4 linked regions of the Homo sapiens genome follow. The protein of the gene in region 1 interacts with the protein of each later gene in a pairwise test. Each region holds a gene or a part of one and is shown in the gene's direction. Other genes may lie near its edges.

What was found. Proteins that work in one complex are often made in the same cells at the same time.
Region 2: the proteins of CDC7 (region 1) and TSNAXIP1 interact in binary tests that used the Homo sapiens proteins (3 or more experiments, as listed by UniProt).
Region 3: the proteins of CDC7 (region 1) and MCM5 interact in a two-hybrid assay, tested with the Homo sapiens proteins (one large-scale study listed by BioGRID).
Region 4: the proteins of CDC7 (region 1) and STAM2 interact in binary tests that used the Homo sapiens proteins (3 or more experiments, as listed by UniProt).

The regions. Positions count from the first base shown.
Region 1 is NC_000001.11:91,517,625-91,521,684, forward strand, and holds part of CDC7 (cell division cycle 7-related protein kinase), read left to right. Parts: intron 1-908; exon of another isoform or gene 909-1,051; intron 1,052-2,505; coding exon 2,506-2,655; intron 2,656-4,060. UniProt on the Homo sapiens protein: Kinase involved in initiation of DNA replication. Phosphorylates critical substrates that regulate the G1/S phase transition and initiation of DNA replication, such as MCM proteins and CLASPIN.
Region 2 is NC_000016.10:67,816,609-67,820,388, forward strand, and holds part of TSNAXIP1 (translin-associated factor X-interacting protein 1), read left to right. Parts: intron 1-3,780. UniProt on the Homo sapiens protein: Possible role in spermatogenesis.
Region 3 is NC_000022.11:35,416,860-35,420,639, forward strand, and holds part of MCM5 (DNA replication licensing factor MCM5), read left to right. Parts: intron 1-884; coding exon 885-997; intron 998-3,024; coding exon 3,025-3,153; intron 3,154-3,780. UniProt on the Homo sapiens protein: Acts as a component of the MCM2-7 complex (MCM complex) which is the replicative helicase essential for 'once per cell cycle' DNA replication initiation and elongation in eukaryotic cells.
Region 4 is NC_000002.12:152,148,264-152,152,043, reverse strand, and holds part of STAM2 (signal transducing adapter molecule 2), read left to right. Parts: intron 1-1,814; coding exon 1,815-1,899; intron 1,900-3,743; coding exon 3,744-3,780.

The DNA.
Region 1 (4,060 bases):
TGGGCTAGAAATACAGATGAATGTCATCATTATATAAATGACAGTTGAAGCCATGAAGTGGATGGACCAATCAGGGAGAGTATACAGAGGGAGAAGTTAAAACTCTGAGGAATATCCGTCAGCACTTAAGGCTTGGAGAAAACATTGAAGGAGCAGGCAGAGGTACCAAAGGAGCTAAGAAAGGCAAGTAGGGCCGGGCACAGTGGCTCATGCCTATAATACCAGCACTTTGGGAGGCCAAGGCAGGCAGATCACTAGGTCAGGAGTTCGAGATCAGCCTGGCCAATATGGCGAAATCCCGTCTCTACTAAAAAGTACAAAAAATTAGCAGGGCATGGTGGCACACACCTGTAGTTCCAGCTACTGGGGAGGCTGAGGCAGGAGAATTGAACCCGGGAGGCAGAGGTTACAGTGAGCCAAGATCGCACCATTGCACTCCAGCCTGAGCAACAGAGTGAGACTCAGTCTCAAAAAAAAAAAAAAAAAAAAAAAGGTGATACAGTAGCCCAAGGAACAGAGAGCAGATAACCTGGTGATACTAGGAAGTCAACAATTAAGAGAGATGTCAACTTTAAGAAAAAAAAAAAAGAGCTTTTTAACATCAAGTTGAGCTAGTCGTAATCTTTAACTACCAGAATTCAGAAGATTAAAGTTTCTATAGTGGGAATGTAAATTAGTACAACCACTATGGAAAACAATTTGGACGTTCCTCAAAAAACTAAAAATAGAGCTACTACATGATCCAACAATCCCACTGCTGGGTATATACCCAAAAGAAAGGAAATCAATGTACCGAAGAGGTATCTGCACTCCCATGTTTGTTGAAGCACTATTCATAATAGCCAAAATTTGAAAGCGACCTAAGTGTCCGTCAACAGATGAATGGATAAAGAAAATGTGGTACTTACACACAATGGAAGTACTATTCAGCCACGAAAAAGAAGATCTTGTCATTTGCAACAACATGGATGGAACTGGAGATCATTATGTCAGGTGAAATAAGCCAGGCACCGAAAGACAAGAGTTGCATGTTCTCACTAATTTGTGGGATCTAAAAATTAAAACAATTGAACCCATAGAGAGCAGAAAGATGGTTACCAGAGGCTGAGAAGGGTGGTGGGAGGGTGTGGGGGATGTGGGGACAGCTGATGGGTACAAAAAATAGTTATAAAGAATGAATTATCCAGCACTTTGGGAGGCCAAGGCAGGTGGATTGCTTGAGCTCAGGCACTCGAGACCAGCTTGGGCAACATGGTAGAACCCTATTTCTACCAAAAATACAAAAAAGTAGCTGGATGTGGTAGTGTGCATCTGTGGTCCCAGCTACTCAGGAGGCTGAGGTGGGAGGATCACTTGAGCCTGGGAGGCGGAGGTTGCAGTGAGCCGAGATCACACTACCACACTCTAGCCTGGGTAACAGAGCCAGACCCCATCTCGAAAAAAAAAAAAAAAGAATGAATTAAGACCTAGTATTTGATAGCACAGCAGGGGGATTATAGTCAGTAATTTAATTGTGCAGTTTAAAATAACTAAAAGAGTACTTTGAGGGGCTGAGGCAGGCAGATCACTTGAGCCCAGGAGCTTGAGACCAGCCTGGCCAATGTGGCAAAACCTCGTCTCTACTAAAAATACAAAAAAAAAAAAAAAAAAAAAAAAAAGAGCTGGGCATGGTGACATGCCTGTAATCCCAGCTACTCAAGAGGCTGAAGCATGAGAATTGCTTGAACCTGGGAGGCAGAGATTGCAGTGAGCTGAGACTGTGCCACTGCACTCTAGTCTGGGCCACAGAGGGAGACCTTGTCTCAAAAAGAAAAAAAGAAAAGAATATAATTGGATTGTTCGTAACACAAAGGATAAATGCTTGAGGGAATGGATACCCTGTTTTCCAGGATGTGATTATTACACACTGCATGCCTGTATCAAAACATCTTATATACCCCATCAATATATACACCTACTGTGTACTCAGAAAAATTAAAGTCTTCACAGTCACAAAAAAATAAAAAAGTAATTTTTTAAAAGTTTCTATAGCAGTAGTTGGTGCTAGTGTCAGCTGAAGAAGAGCTTCTAATGTTCATTACTTTTCACTAAAATGAAAGCACTTTGACCAGTATGGTATGTAATTCTCAAGGATCATTCAGATTTTTTCCCACATAGCTATTTTTGGATTCCTTTTGATCCTATAAAATGTGCGTTTACTTAGTGTTTCCTAGTGATTAAATATCCTTTTAAATTTACCAACACGTTGCTCAAGAAAGAAAACATATTTTGCAGTGAGGATTCTCAGTCCTGGTTGTACATTAAAATCACCTGAGGAACTTTTTTAAAACATTGATGCCTGAGCCCTACTTCAGAACTGTTCAATCAAAATCTTTGGGTCTGGGCATCTGAAATTTTTAAGGCTCCCAAGGTGATTCTAATGCATAATAAATGTTGAGGACTATTGATTTAGATGATAAAATTATAGATTTGAAATTTATTTTTAAAATTTGTCTTCTGTTGCAGCAATTGACATGTGGTCTGCAGGTGTCATATTTCTTTCTTTGCTTAGTGGACGATATCCATTTTATAAAGCAAGTGATGATTTAACTGCTTTGGCCCAAATTATGACAATTAGGGGATCCAGAGAAACTATCCAAGCTGCTAAAACTTTTGGTAAGCAGTTTTGTATTATAGAACCAAACAAAATGCCTTTGATTATCTCCTACAAATCACTTAATAAATTATTGTGAAATTTTCTTTACAAATAAACATTCAGTCTTGATAAAGTTCTCTAATATTAAGTAGAAAATTCTTCAGTTGCTTGAAAATAAATTTATCACCTCTCTATACATATAATCATTTAATCTTATTAAGCACAAAGTAATACACTGTTGCAGTATTTAAAGTTTACCTTTATAATTTTATAAGAATAAGGAGTAAAATCTTAACTCCTTTTAGTTATGGTTTGACTTTTATTACATAAATTTACCTTTTATTAAAGGCATGTTTTACTTTGTAATATGTTTTACTTTTTTATTGTCTTTTAAACATCAGATGCACTATGTCTTGGTACTTAGAGTGTCCTTGCCTTAAATGATCTTAGGCTATACTAACAAGTAAACAGTTAATTATTAATACAGTGTAATAAGGACTAGGGAAGAGAATGGAAATGTGTGTTGTCAGGTTGTGTAGGTTTACGGTAGCAGAGAAGCAGAATGCATAGAAGGCCTTAACTGATGGGATATTATTGTAAGCATATATTGGACTTGGATGTCATCTCCTTAGCCACGCAAGTTCTTCAAGACTGGGATGTGCAGTGTACTTCATAGGGCACATAAGAATTATCTCAGCCTTGCTCTGGCCAACAATCTGAACTCAAGTGCCCATTTAATGTTTATTTTCCACGCTCAGTTATAGTTAATACTTTCCAAGGAATAAGTGGGATTGACTCAGCTTACTACCATACAATACAGAACACCTCAGGAGACAAAGTTTCAGCCAGCCTACCTCAAGAGTAGCTGGGCTGTCTTGTGCTCAACCCCAGGATCAGTGGGTCTTAACCAGAGTTGCATGTCAGAATTATCTGAGAATCTTTAAGAAATACATATGCCTGCCCACTCAGCCTATTCTTGGAAAATATGATTCAGAAAAACAAGATACTTAGGAAGGCTCCAGCCTTGTTAGTTTGAAAAAGCAAGTGATTCTGACTAAGAAACTATGGGTGTTTAAGAACCACTGCAAAAATTACTGCCCTTGCTTATGCACTAGTGCTATAGTCTAATCTACAAGAAAAACTTAGTGGTGGTTGTGAAGAAAGCCTCATCTTAATAGAGGCTTGCCAAAATATGTTTCTACAGTAAAGTCAGTCCACGATTTGTAACTATCTTGTACTTATTGTAAGAAAATTTTATTTGAAGATAATAGGATGAAATAATACAAGGGAAAAAAAGTGACCATGAGTGGAAAGCAAGATTGATATCTTAGAAATGGCATTCTTACATAATAATATAACAAGTATGTTTATTCTCAACTGAGAAAACTTTCATCTACTATTGAATAACTTCGTGAGAGGTTTATG
Region 2 (3,780 bases), on another chromosome or scaffold:
TCTGAGGCTCCCGGGCACCCTTCTCAGCTGCCACCTTCTGTGGGCCAGGCTTTTTCATTCTTTCTTTTGCGCGGCATCAACCACCAGGGGGCAGTGTTCCCTCCCGCCGTCCCTCCGGGGCCGCCTTCCCGTTTTTACCTACAGGGGGAAGCAGAGAGCACGGAGCGCCCGGGAGCACTGCGTTCCAGCCACCCGGGCGGAGATCCCTCAGCTGTTAATAACCTAGCCGAGACCCGGCCCTGGCAGCTGGTTCTCCAGCTTCCACTCGCCTCTGCAAGCAAAGGAGGGTAGCCACATTTTCTCCCGGTAGAAACAGTAGACAGAACACGAGGACTGGTCTTTTTTTTTTTTTTTAATATTAATTAATTTATTTTTTGAGACGGAGCCTCGCTCCTCGCCCAGGCTGGAGCGCAGTGGCACAGTCTTGGCTCACTGCAACCTCCACCTCCCAGGTTCAAGCGATTCTCCTGCCTCAGCCTCCCTAGTAGCTGGGACTACAGGCACGTGTCACCACACCTGGCTAATTTTTTGCGGTTTTTTTTTTGTTTTTTGTTTTTTTGAAACAGAGTCTTGCTTTGTCGCCCAGGCTGGAGTGCAGTGGCGCGATCTCGGCTCACTGCAAGTTCCGCCTCCCGGGTTCACGCCATTCTCCTGCCACAGTCTCCTGAGTAGCTGGGACTACAGGCGCCCGCCACCGCGCCCGGCTATTTTTTTTTTTTTTTTGTATTTTTAGTAGAGACGGGGTTTCACCGTGGTCTCGATCTCCTAACCTCGTGATCCACCCGCCTCGGCCTCCCAAAGTGCTGGGATTACAGGCGTGAGCCACCGCGCCCGGCCATTTTTTGCGTTTTTAGTAGAGACGAGGGTTTCACCGTGTTAGCCAGGATGGTCTCCGTCTCCTGACCTCGTGATTTGCCCGCCTTGGCCTCCCAAAGTGCTGGGATTACAAGCGTAAGCCACCGCGCCCGGCCAAGGACTGGTCTTTTACAAGTCTGAAAAACGGCCGGGCGCGGTGGCTCACGCCTGTAATCCCAGCACTTTGGGAGGCCGAAGTGGGTGGATCACCTGAGGTCAGGGGTTCAAGACCACCCTGGGCAACATGGTGAAACTCCGTTTCTACTAAAAATACAAAATTTGCCGGGTGTGGTGGTGCGTGCCTGCAGTCTCTTCGGGAGGCTGAGGCAGGAGAATTGCTTGAACTTGGGAGGTGGAGGTTGCAGTGAGCCAAGATAGTGCCACTGCGCTCCAGCCTGGGCAACAGAGTGAGGCTCCGTCTCAAAATAAATGAATAAATAAAAACAAATAATAAAAAATAGTCTGGGCCGGGCGCAGTGGCTCACACCTGTAATCCCAGCATTTTGGGAGGCTGAGGTGGGCAGATCACTAGGTCAGGAGTTCAAGACCAGCCTGGCCAACATGGTGAAACCCCATCTCTACTAAAAATACAAAAATTAGCTGGGCGTGGTGGCATGCGCCTGTAATTCCGGCTACTCGGGAGGCTGAGGCAGGACAATCACTTGAACCCAGGAGGTGGAGGCTGCAGTGAGCAGAGATTGTGCCACTGCACCCCAGCCTGGGCGACAGAGCGAGACTCAGTCTCAAAAAAATAAATAAATAAAATTCTGAAAAACAAGGCTGGCTCACACCTGTAATCCTAACACTTTGGGAGGCCAAAGAAGGAAGACTGCTTGAGACCAGGAGTTTGAGACCAGCCTGGCAACACAGGGAGATTTCATCTCTACAAAAAAGATTTTTTAAATTAACCAGGAATGGTGGTGTGCCCATGTAGTCCTAGCTACTCAGGAGACTGAGGTGGGAGGATCTCTTGAGCCCGGGAGTTTGTAGTTACTGTGAGGTGTTATTGGGTCACTGCACTCCAGCCTGGGTGACAGAGTAAGACCCTGTCTCTAAGAAAAAAATAAAAAATAAACTCCCAGGTGTCTTCCAGGGTTATTTTGTGCTTTTATAAAAATTAGGCTGGGCATCATGACTCAAGCCTGTAATCCCAGCACTTTGGGAGGACAAGGTAGGAGGATCTCTTGATCCCAGGACAGTTCGAGAAGCCCAGCGTGGGCAACATAGTGAGACCCCATCCTTTTTTTTTTTTTTTTTTGAGACAGAGTCTCTCTCTGTCGCCCAGACTGGAGTACAGTCGTGCCATGTCTGCTCACTGTGGCCTCTGCCTCCAGGGTTGAGGCAATTCTTCTGCCTCGGCCTCCGAAATAGCTGGGATTACAGGCGTGCACTACCAGGCCTGGTTAATTTTTGTATTTTTAGTAGAGATGGGGTTTCAACATGTTGGCCAGGCTGGCCTCAAATTCCTGGCCTCAGGTTATCCGCTTGCCTCCGCCTCCCAAAGTGCTGGGAATCAGGCGTGAGCTGGGCGCGATGGCTCACACTTGTAATCTCTACTAAAAATACAAAAGAACTGGGCATGGTGGCAGGCCAGCTACTCGGGAGTCTGAGGCAGGAGAATTGCTTGAACTCAAGAGGCAGAGCTGCAGTGAGCAGAGATCGTGCTACTGTACTGCACTCCAGCTTGGGCAACTCCAGCTTGGCAACTCCATCTCAAATAAATAAATAAATACATACATATAAACATACATACATAAATAATTACATCCATTTTGATAGTCTTTTTTTTTTTTTTTTGAGATGGAGTTTCACTCTTGTCCCCGTGGCTGGAGTGCAAGGGGTCGATCCCAGCTCACTGCAACCTCTGCCTCCCGAGTTCAAGCGATTCTCCTGCCTCAGCCTCCCGAGTAACTGGGAATACAGGCGTGTGCCACCATGCCCGGCTAATTTTTGTATTTTTAGTAGAGATGGAGTTTCACCATGTTGGCCAGGCTGGTCTCAAATTCCTGACCTCAAGTGATCTGCCCACCTTGGCCTCAAAGTGCTAAAAGTCGCACATCTTGGCCTCCCAAACTGCTGGGATTACGGGCATGAGCCACTGTGCCCGGCCAGAATAGCTAATCTTTACTGAGTTCCTAGCAAGTACCAGGGTCCATGTGAAGCACACATTATGCTTTCCCTCTTTTTTTTTTTTTTTTTTTGAGACAGAGTTTTGTTCTTGTTGTCCAGGCTGGAGTGCAATGGTGCAATCTCAGCTCACCGCAACCTCCGCTTCCCGGGTTCAAGGGATTCTCCTGCCTCAGCCTCCTGAGTAGCTGGGACTATAAGCACATGCCACCACACCTGGCTAAATTTTTTTTTTTTTTTTTTTTTTGAGACTGAGTCTCGCTCTGTCGCCAGGCTGGAGTGCAGTGGCGCAATCTTGGCTCACTGCAAACTCCGCCTCCTGGGTTCATGCCATTCTCCTGCCTCAGCCTCCAGAGTAGCTGGGACTACAGGTGTCCGACACCACGCCCGGCTAATTTTTTGTATTTTTAGTAGAGACGGGGTTTCACTGTGTTAACCAGGATGGTCTCGATCTCCTGACCTCGTGATCCATCCGCCTTGGCCTTGCAAAGTGCTGGGATTACAGGCGTGAGCCACCATGCCCGGCCTAATTTTTTTTTGTATTTTTAGTAGAGACGGGGTTTCACCGTGTTAGCCAGGATAGTCTCGATCTCCTGACCTCGTGATCCACCCACCTCAGCCTCCGAAAGTGCTGGGAATTACAGGCGTGAGCCACCGCGCCCGACTATGCTTTCTCACTGCATCCTCACATCAATACACTGTGACAAAGACTACCATCATCCCTATTTTACAGACGTGAGAACTAAGGCTCAGAGAAGTTGTGACATAGCTAATAAGGGACATTTGAGACTTAACCCG
Region 3 (3,780 bases), on another chromosome or scaffold:
CAGGCTTGTGATTGTGTGGGAAGGAGAATGGAGAACAAGGGCCTTGGCTGGCAAAGTCCTGACTGTCAGGCTGTGAAATTGGGGAGCACGTGAGAGGGCGGTTGTTGTGGACTGCAGAGGATTGAAGCAGGGTCTGGAGTCCTGTGGCCTGCTCTGCCTCTGCCGTGAGTGATAAGCTGTGTGATTTGGGCTAAATCAGTTTCTCCCTGGGCCTCAGTCCCTTATATATGAAACAGAGGAGTTGACATTGGGTTATGAGTAATAGAACCTCAGTTCTGGTTAGTAAATTTTTCAAAGAAAAAAACATAGTGGTTTATAGAATTGGTAAGTCCGGCGGCTTAAGGCCCAGGTAGATCTGGATTCTCAAACAACTGTCTCTGCCTTTCTGTTCTGCTTCCCTTGGTGGAATCTTTGTACTTGGGCAGCTGTTCCTCTTGTGGTGGCAAAGACAAAATAAGATTTTGTCCTGTTAGCTTGTAGCTTAACAGCCCCCAGGAAAGAGGAGGCCCCGTCTTTTCCAGTACTTCTATCAAAAGTCCCAGGATAGACTCCTATTGGCTTGGGTAGATCCTATGTCCATGCCCAAGTTGGGGTGGACAAGATACATGCCCCAAGTCGGGGTGGACAAGCTGAACCCACCCCTTTATGGACCAGGGCAGAGGAGCAAGGAGCATTAAGTTCTCTCTAAAGGAGAATCCAGATGCTCCCATCAGAACGAGGGCCTGGTGCTGAGCAAACAGGCTGAGCACGCCTGAGATCTCAGCACCCTTTCCGGCTCCTTGATGCCAGGGCCCCATCAGCTCTTTCTGGCTGTTCCACCTCAGTGCTGGGACTCAGGCTTGGGACGGCCTGTGGGATGACCCATTATCCCCTCTGCTCTCCAGATGCTGGCCAAGCATGTCATCACTCTGCACGTGAGCGCACTGACACAGACACAGGCTGTGGAGGGCGAGATTGACCTGGCCAAGCTGAAGAAGTTTATTGCCTACTGCCGAGTGTGAGTCCTGGACGCAGGCCCACGGGGGTGAGGTTGCCCAGCTTCCCTGGGTGGGAGAGAACCCAGTCCCCTGGTCCTGCTCCTCCTCATGAAGAACAGCCCAGATGTTGCTGTTCTGAGGTTCTCAGCTCTACTGAATCTGCTCTGCTCCCTTCTAACCTTGCGTAGCTCACTGGCTCTTGGCTTCAGTTTTCCCACCTCCACACCAAGGAGGTGGGATTTAGATGGTCTTGAAGACCTCCTCGAGTCTGACATGCAGGGAGGCAGTGAAGTGTAGACATGGTAGACATGGGCTCTGGGTCATACCTGCCTTCACTCTATGACTTTGGGCAAGTTGGTTGGCCTCTCTGAGCCTTGATTTCCCCAGGCCTATCGATGTTTGCTAGGATTTTTGTAAGGATTGCACAAGATGATGAGTAAGTGCTTGGCATAGCCCTGCCCTGGGTAAATACTCAGTGAGTCGCAGCTGCAATTTGATTGTTCTCACAGATTTTCAATAATAATAATTATATACATAGTACTGGCTGGTTGCAGTGGCTCACGCTGTAATCCCAGCACTTTGGGAGGCGGAGGCAGGTGGATCACTTGAGGTCAGGAGTGCGAGACCAGCCTGGCCAACGTGGCGAAACCCCATGTCTACTAAAAATACAAAAATTAGCCGGGTGTGGTGGTGCACACCTATAGTCCCAGCTACTCAGGAGGCTGAGGCAGGAGAATTGCTTGAACCCAGGAGGCAGAGATTGCAGTGAGCTGAGATCGTGCCATTGCACTTCAGCCTGGGCAACAGAGTGAGACTCTGTCTCAAAAAAAAAAAATATATATATATGTGTACACACACACACACACACACACACTCACTCTTACACACTACTTTCTTTGTGCCAGGCATTCTGAATTACTATTCAGTATTTTCTATATGAATAAATTATAACCCTCCCCCAAAACCTACCAGGTAAGGTGTGCTATTATTCCCTTCCCTTTATGGATGGGGAAGCTGAGGCAAAGGAAGTTAAGTAACTTGCCCAAGGTCACATGCCAGAGGTAGTGGAGCCAGGATGTGAACCCAGCTGCTTGCCTCCAGAGGCTGTGCTCTTAACCACAGTGCTTCGATTCTTGTCGTACAGCGCTTTGGTGATCTTTTGAAGGAGCTAAAACCCAGGGGTTGAGGGCTCTTTGAATGCACTACCAGTGGGGGGCTGGTGGGTCCCTGATTCAGCACCTCTGCCAGGGTGAGTGGGTAGTCCCTGGGTCTTCATCCAAGTCTGAGCTCTGTGTGGCCCAGTCTTGAGAGGCTTGGGCCCACAGCTGTGAGTCAGGGAGCCCTGGATTCTAATCTTCCCTCTGCACTAAGTCCCCAGGTAGCCTTGGGGAGTTCCCTCCCTCCCTCTGGGTCTCAGTCTCCACATCCTTAGGATGGTTGAGCTAAGGCTTTCCCTACATCAGTGACTGTCAGTTGGCCTGGGGGCTAGAGGGGAGGGGATGGGATAGGGTAGATGCTGATCAGACTTCCCCACACCTACCGTCCCAGGAGAGTCTGAGGTGCTCCCAGCCCCTGGACTGCAGTCACCGCCAAGCCTCCTGTGGGTGTCATCAGCTTGTCGTGTCTTCAGATGTGTTGGGTGGAGGAGTTTGAGACTGCTGCAAAGCCCACCACCCAGTGGGCCTCCATGCCGCTGTGATTGTGCCATTGTTCATTACATGTATGGGGGACCTTGTGGCAAGACACCACACAGCGTCTAACAGTGGGGAAGAGGCGGTTTTCACCCTGCAGACGTGCCTGGCTTTTCTTCACCTGTTTTTTAAGAGAGGCACCCATATTTCTCCCCAGTGTTGATGTTTGTGGCAGCTGCCCACAGCCAGATTTCACTTAAATCTTTTCCGATTGTTGTCCCCCAGCCCATATGAGTGGGCAGCTGTGGTGTGGTGGGAAAGTGCATGTCTGTAAGCTGGCAGGGGGCTGGGGGAAAGGGTAGGTGCCCTAAGAGTCCCTCCTGGCCTCACACCAGCCTCTCCCCACTGTCCTGCAGGAAGTGTGGCCCCCGGCTGTCAGCAGAGGCTGCAGAGAAACTGAAGAACCGCTACATCATCATGCGGAGCGGGGCCCGTCAGCACGAGAGGGACAGTGACCGCCGCTCCAGCATCCCCATCACTGTGCGGTGAGCAGGCGGGCAGGGCTGGGCCATGGCAGATGGGGCTTGCTTTACACAGCAGGGTGTGCTTGGCAACCAGGGGCAGTGGTCCAGGCTTTTCACTTGGCACAGGCCCATAGTAGCTCTGGGCAGGAAGAGTCCCTTTGGAGCATAAACTATGGCCTCCTTGATCTCAATGATGATCCATGTTTCTTGATTTAAGGCCGGGCAAACCTAGACCCCTCTTGTCTGAATTTGGCCTGGCTTCTCCCATTGTAGGAAGCCCGAAGGGAGGGAAGGACCCAGGCCTGGGAGTCAAGAGTCTTGGGTCCCAGCCTCTAGCCCACTGTGTGACTGTAGGGAAATTACATTCCTTCTCTGGCCCTCAGTGCTTTTAGCTCCTAACTCTGTTCATTCTTGTGACTTTGTAGACAATACAGTGGGTAAGAGTTGGGATTTACCTGGTTTGAATCCTGTCTCCAGCACTGACTGGTTGGAAATGGATTTGGCTATAAGTAATGGTAAATCCAGATAAAGTAGCTTAAAGAAATAGGAAGTTCATTTCTCTTTTCTGTAGCACTGTCTGGAGGAAGATGGTATGGGGACTGGTGTGAGGACTCCTCAAGCTCCCCCTTACTCTTAGTCCGAGATGGC
Region 4 (3,780 bases), on another chromosome or scaffold:
ACGTGAGCCCCGGGAGATAAAGGCTGCAGTGAGTTGTGATCACACCACTGCACACCAGCCTGGGCAACAGAGTGAGACCCTGTCTCAGTAAGCCAACCAACCAACCAACCAACCAACCCAGATGTTCATGAACTGGTGAATGAATAAATGTGGTATATCTATACAATGGAATATTATTTAGCCATAAGAAGAAATGAAGTACTGGTACATGCTACAACGTGGATGACCCTTGCAAACATTATGCCAAATAACAGAAGCCAGTCAGAAAAGAACATATATTGTGTGGTTCTATTTATATGAAAAATCCGGAATAGGTAAATCTTTGGAGACAGAAAGTAGACAAGTGGTTGCGTAGGGCTGGGAATATGTGGGGAGAATGAACAGTGACTGCCAATGGGTATGGATTTCTTTTGGAAGTGATTAAATGTTCTCAAATTAGATACTGGTGTTAGTTGTACAACTCTATGAATATAGTCAAAACATTGAATTGTACATTTTAAATGTGTAAATTGTATTGATACATGAATTATAGCGATAAAGCTGTCTTAAAAAACTCATGTAGCTGGGTGCGGTGGCTTATGTCTGTAATCAGTCCTAGCACTTTGGGAGGCTGAGGTGGGCGGATCACAAGGTCAGGAGTTTGAGACCAGCCTGACCAATATGGTGAAACCCCATCTCTACTAAAAATACAAGAATTAGCCGAGTGTGGTGGCAGGCGCCTGTAGTCTCAGCTACTCAGGCGGCTGAGGCAGGAGAATTGCTTGAACCTGGGAGGTGGAGGTTGCAGTGAGCTGAGATCGTGCCATTGCACTCCAGCCAGCCTGGGCAACAGAGCAAGACACTGTCGAAAAAAAAAAAAAAAAAAGAACTCATGTAAATATTATAAATTCTTCTGCTGTTAGCTTTTTTGACTCAGCGTTATAAGCCCAAGCAAATCATATTTTGAGATTCATAAATTTTTGTTCATTTAATTTTGTATTCCTCATTTCATATTTCGTTGTATGAATTTATTAATCAATTTTCCTTTTTGCTATTGAAAACAGTGCTTCAGGCTGGGTGCAGTGGCCTGTAATCCCAACATTTGGGAGCCAAGGAGGATTCCATGAGCCCAGGAGTTCAAGACCAGCCTGGGCAACATAGTGAGACCCCTTATCTATTAAAAAAATTTACAAAACCAATGCTTTATTGGACAGTGTAGTGCATATTTACTTGTATGATATACTTTCTAATTTTTTTAAGAGGTAGAGTCTCACCCTGTCATCCAGGCTGGAGTGCGGTAGCATGATAATAGCTCACTGCAGCCTTGAGGTCATAGGCTCAAGCAATCCTCCCATTTCAGCCTCCCAAGTAGCTAAGATTACAGGCATTTGCCACCATGCCTGGCTAATTTTTAAAATTTATTTTTCGTAGAAACAGGGTCTATCTATATTGCCCAGGCTGGTCTCGAACTCCTGGCCTCAAACGATCTTCCTGCCTTGGCCTCCCATGCCTGGGATTACAGGCATGAGCCACCATGCCCGGCCTGGATTATACATCTTTAAAACTTTCTTCCAAATTAGAATTTGATGGGATTATTGATACTTAGTAATTTGTTTATTTAGAAGGCATTTTATTGCTTTACCTCAAGATATTTAGTTCATTTAATTATACAATTTAAAATTGAAGTTAGTAGAAGTACTTTTGTCTTCTGAAGGTCGTCTGTAGTATCTTCGGCAATAGAAAAGGTAGGATTTCTTAACTGTTGGACCTTTACTGGTATTTTAGTGTTATATGAGATGTGTCCTCATTGTTGTGTATGCCAATATATTTTATAGAAAAAGCCACGAATGAGTACAACACTACAGAAGATTGGAGTCTTATTATGGACATATGTGACAAAGTTGGAAGTACTCCTAATGGGTAAGATGTCCAGTCATGCTCAGTGAATGTCTAGGAACTTGATAACCAGTGTCTCTTTTTGTGATGTAACTTTGAGAGGAAAATGAGACTTTATCACAGTTGACCCTTGAACAACACAGATTTAAACTGCGAGGGTTCACTTATACATAGGTTTTCTTCCACCTCTGCTACCTCTAAGACAGCAAGACCAACCCCTCTTCCTCCAACTCATGATTTCCTTAACAACATTTTTTTTTCTCTAGCTTACCTTATTGTAAGAATACAGTATATTATGTATATACAAAATATATGTCCATCTACTGTTTATGGTATTGGTGAGGCTTCTGGTCAAGAGTAGGCTGTTAGTTGGCTGGGCGCAGTGGCTCACGCCTATAATCCCAGAACTTTGAGAGGCCGAGGCGAGCAGATCACTTGAGGTCAGGAGTTCGAAACCAGCCTGGCCAACATGGTGAAACCCCATCTCTACTAGAAATACAAAACTTAGCTGGACATAATGGTGTGCGCCTGTAATCCCAGCTACTTGAGATGCTGAGACAGGAAAATCGCTTGAACCCAGGAGGCAGAGCTTGCAGTGAGCCGAGATGGCACCACTGCACTCCAGCCTGGACGGTAGAGCGAGACTCTGTCTCAAAAAAAAAAAAAAAAAAAGAGTAGACTATTAATAGTGAAGTTTTTGGGGAATCAAAAGTTATACACAGATTTTCGGCTGCGTGGGGTGTTGGTGTCCTTAACTTTCATGTAGTTAAAGGGTCAGTTGTTTTACTTTTGGGACATAAAAGTTAAAAAAGCCTGAATGCTGGATTTATGGGATTAATTTACATGAAAAAGAGTTCAACTGAAAATCTGCTATAGTAACACACATAATTAAAGCCTTGACACAATAGGATACATGATAACAATGTATAGGTGAGTTATTTAAGGAATTCCTCTGGGACTTCTATATGTATGGGAACTTTTAAATAATGAAGTAGATAACACAGTAGATAATATAACAAAAAAGTCTTCAAATAATATACATATAAATATAATAGATTAACAATGAAAAAAGTGAATATAAAAAAGTGCTTTTGGGGAGATGTGGCAATTAGCTGAACTATATGTTAGAAATTTAGAAGAGTGATGAAAGCATTTGTTTTAACATTAAAGCTTTTCATAGTACATTCACATGTTTATACTTGAACCTCTTAAAATTGTATATCATGTTAGATTTTTTTCAAGATAAGCTTTTGCTGTTTGAAAGCTAAACCTGTCTTGAAGAAATAGAAAGATCTGGTATACGTCTCTTGTGTTGACAGATCTTTTGTGAAATGGTTTGTCTCTTAATTTTGGAATACACAACATTTGCAACATGCTTTTTTTTTTTAAAGTTCTATGAGCCTATAAACAAAATATTGTGTAAAATCATTTTATAGATTTATTCCTTTAACAATATGAAATTTCCAGGATTTTAGTTTAGTTTATTTTTATTTTATACTTTCTTTATTTTGAGACACGGTCTCTGTCATCCAGGCTGGAGTATAGTGGCATGACACAGCTCACAGCAGCTTCCTGGGCTCAAGCAGTCCTCTTGCCTCAGCCTCCTGAGTAGCTAGGAGTACAGACACATGCCACCATGCCCAGCTAATTTTTAAGTTTTTTATAGAGATGAGATCTTACTTTGTTTTCCAGGCTGGTCTCAAATTCATGGGCTCAAGTGATCCTCCCGCCTTGGCTTCCCGAAGTGTTGGAATTACAGGCATGAGCCATTAAATATAAAATTATTTGGTAATAGAATAATACCTTAATGTTTGAATTAAATTTATCAGTAAATACTTAACTGTCTCTCTCTCTCTTTTTTTTTTTAGAGCGAAAGATTGCCTAAAAGCCATAATGAAAAGGGTA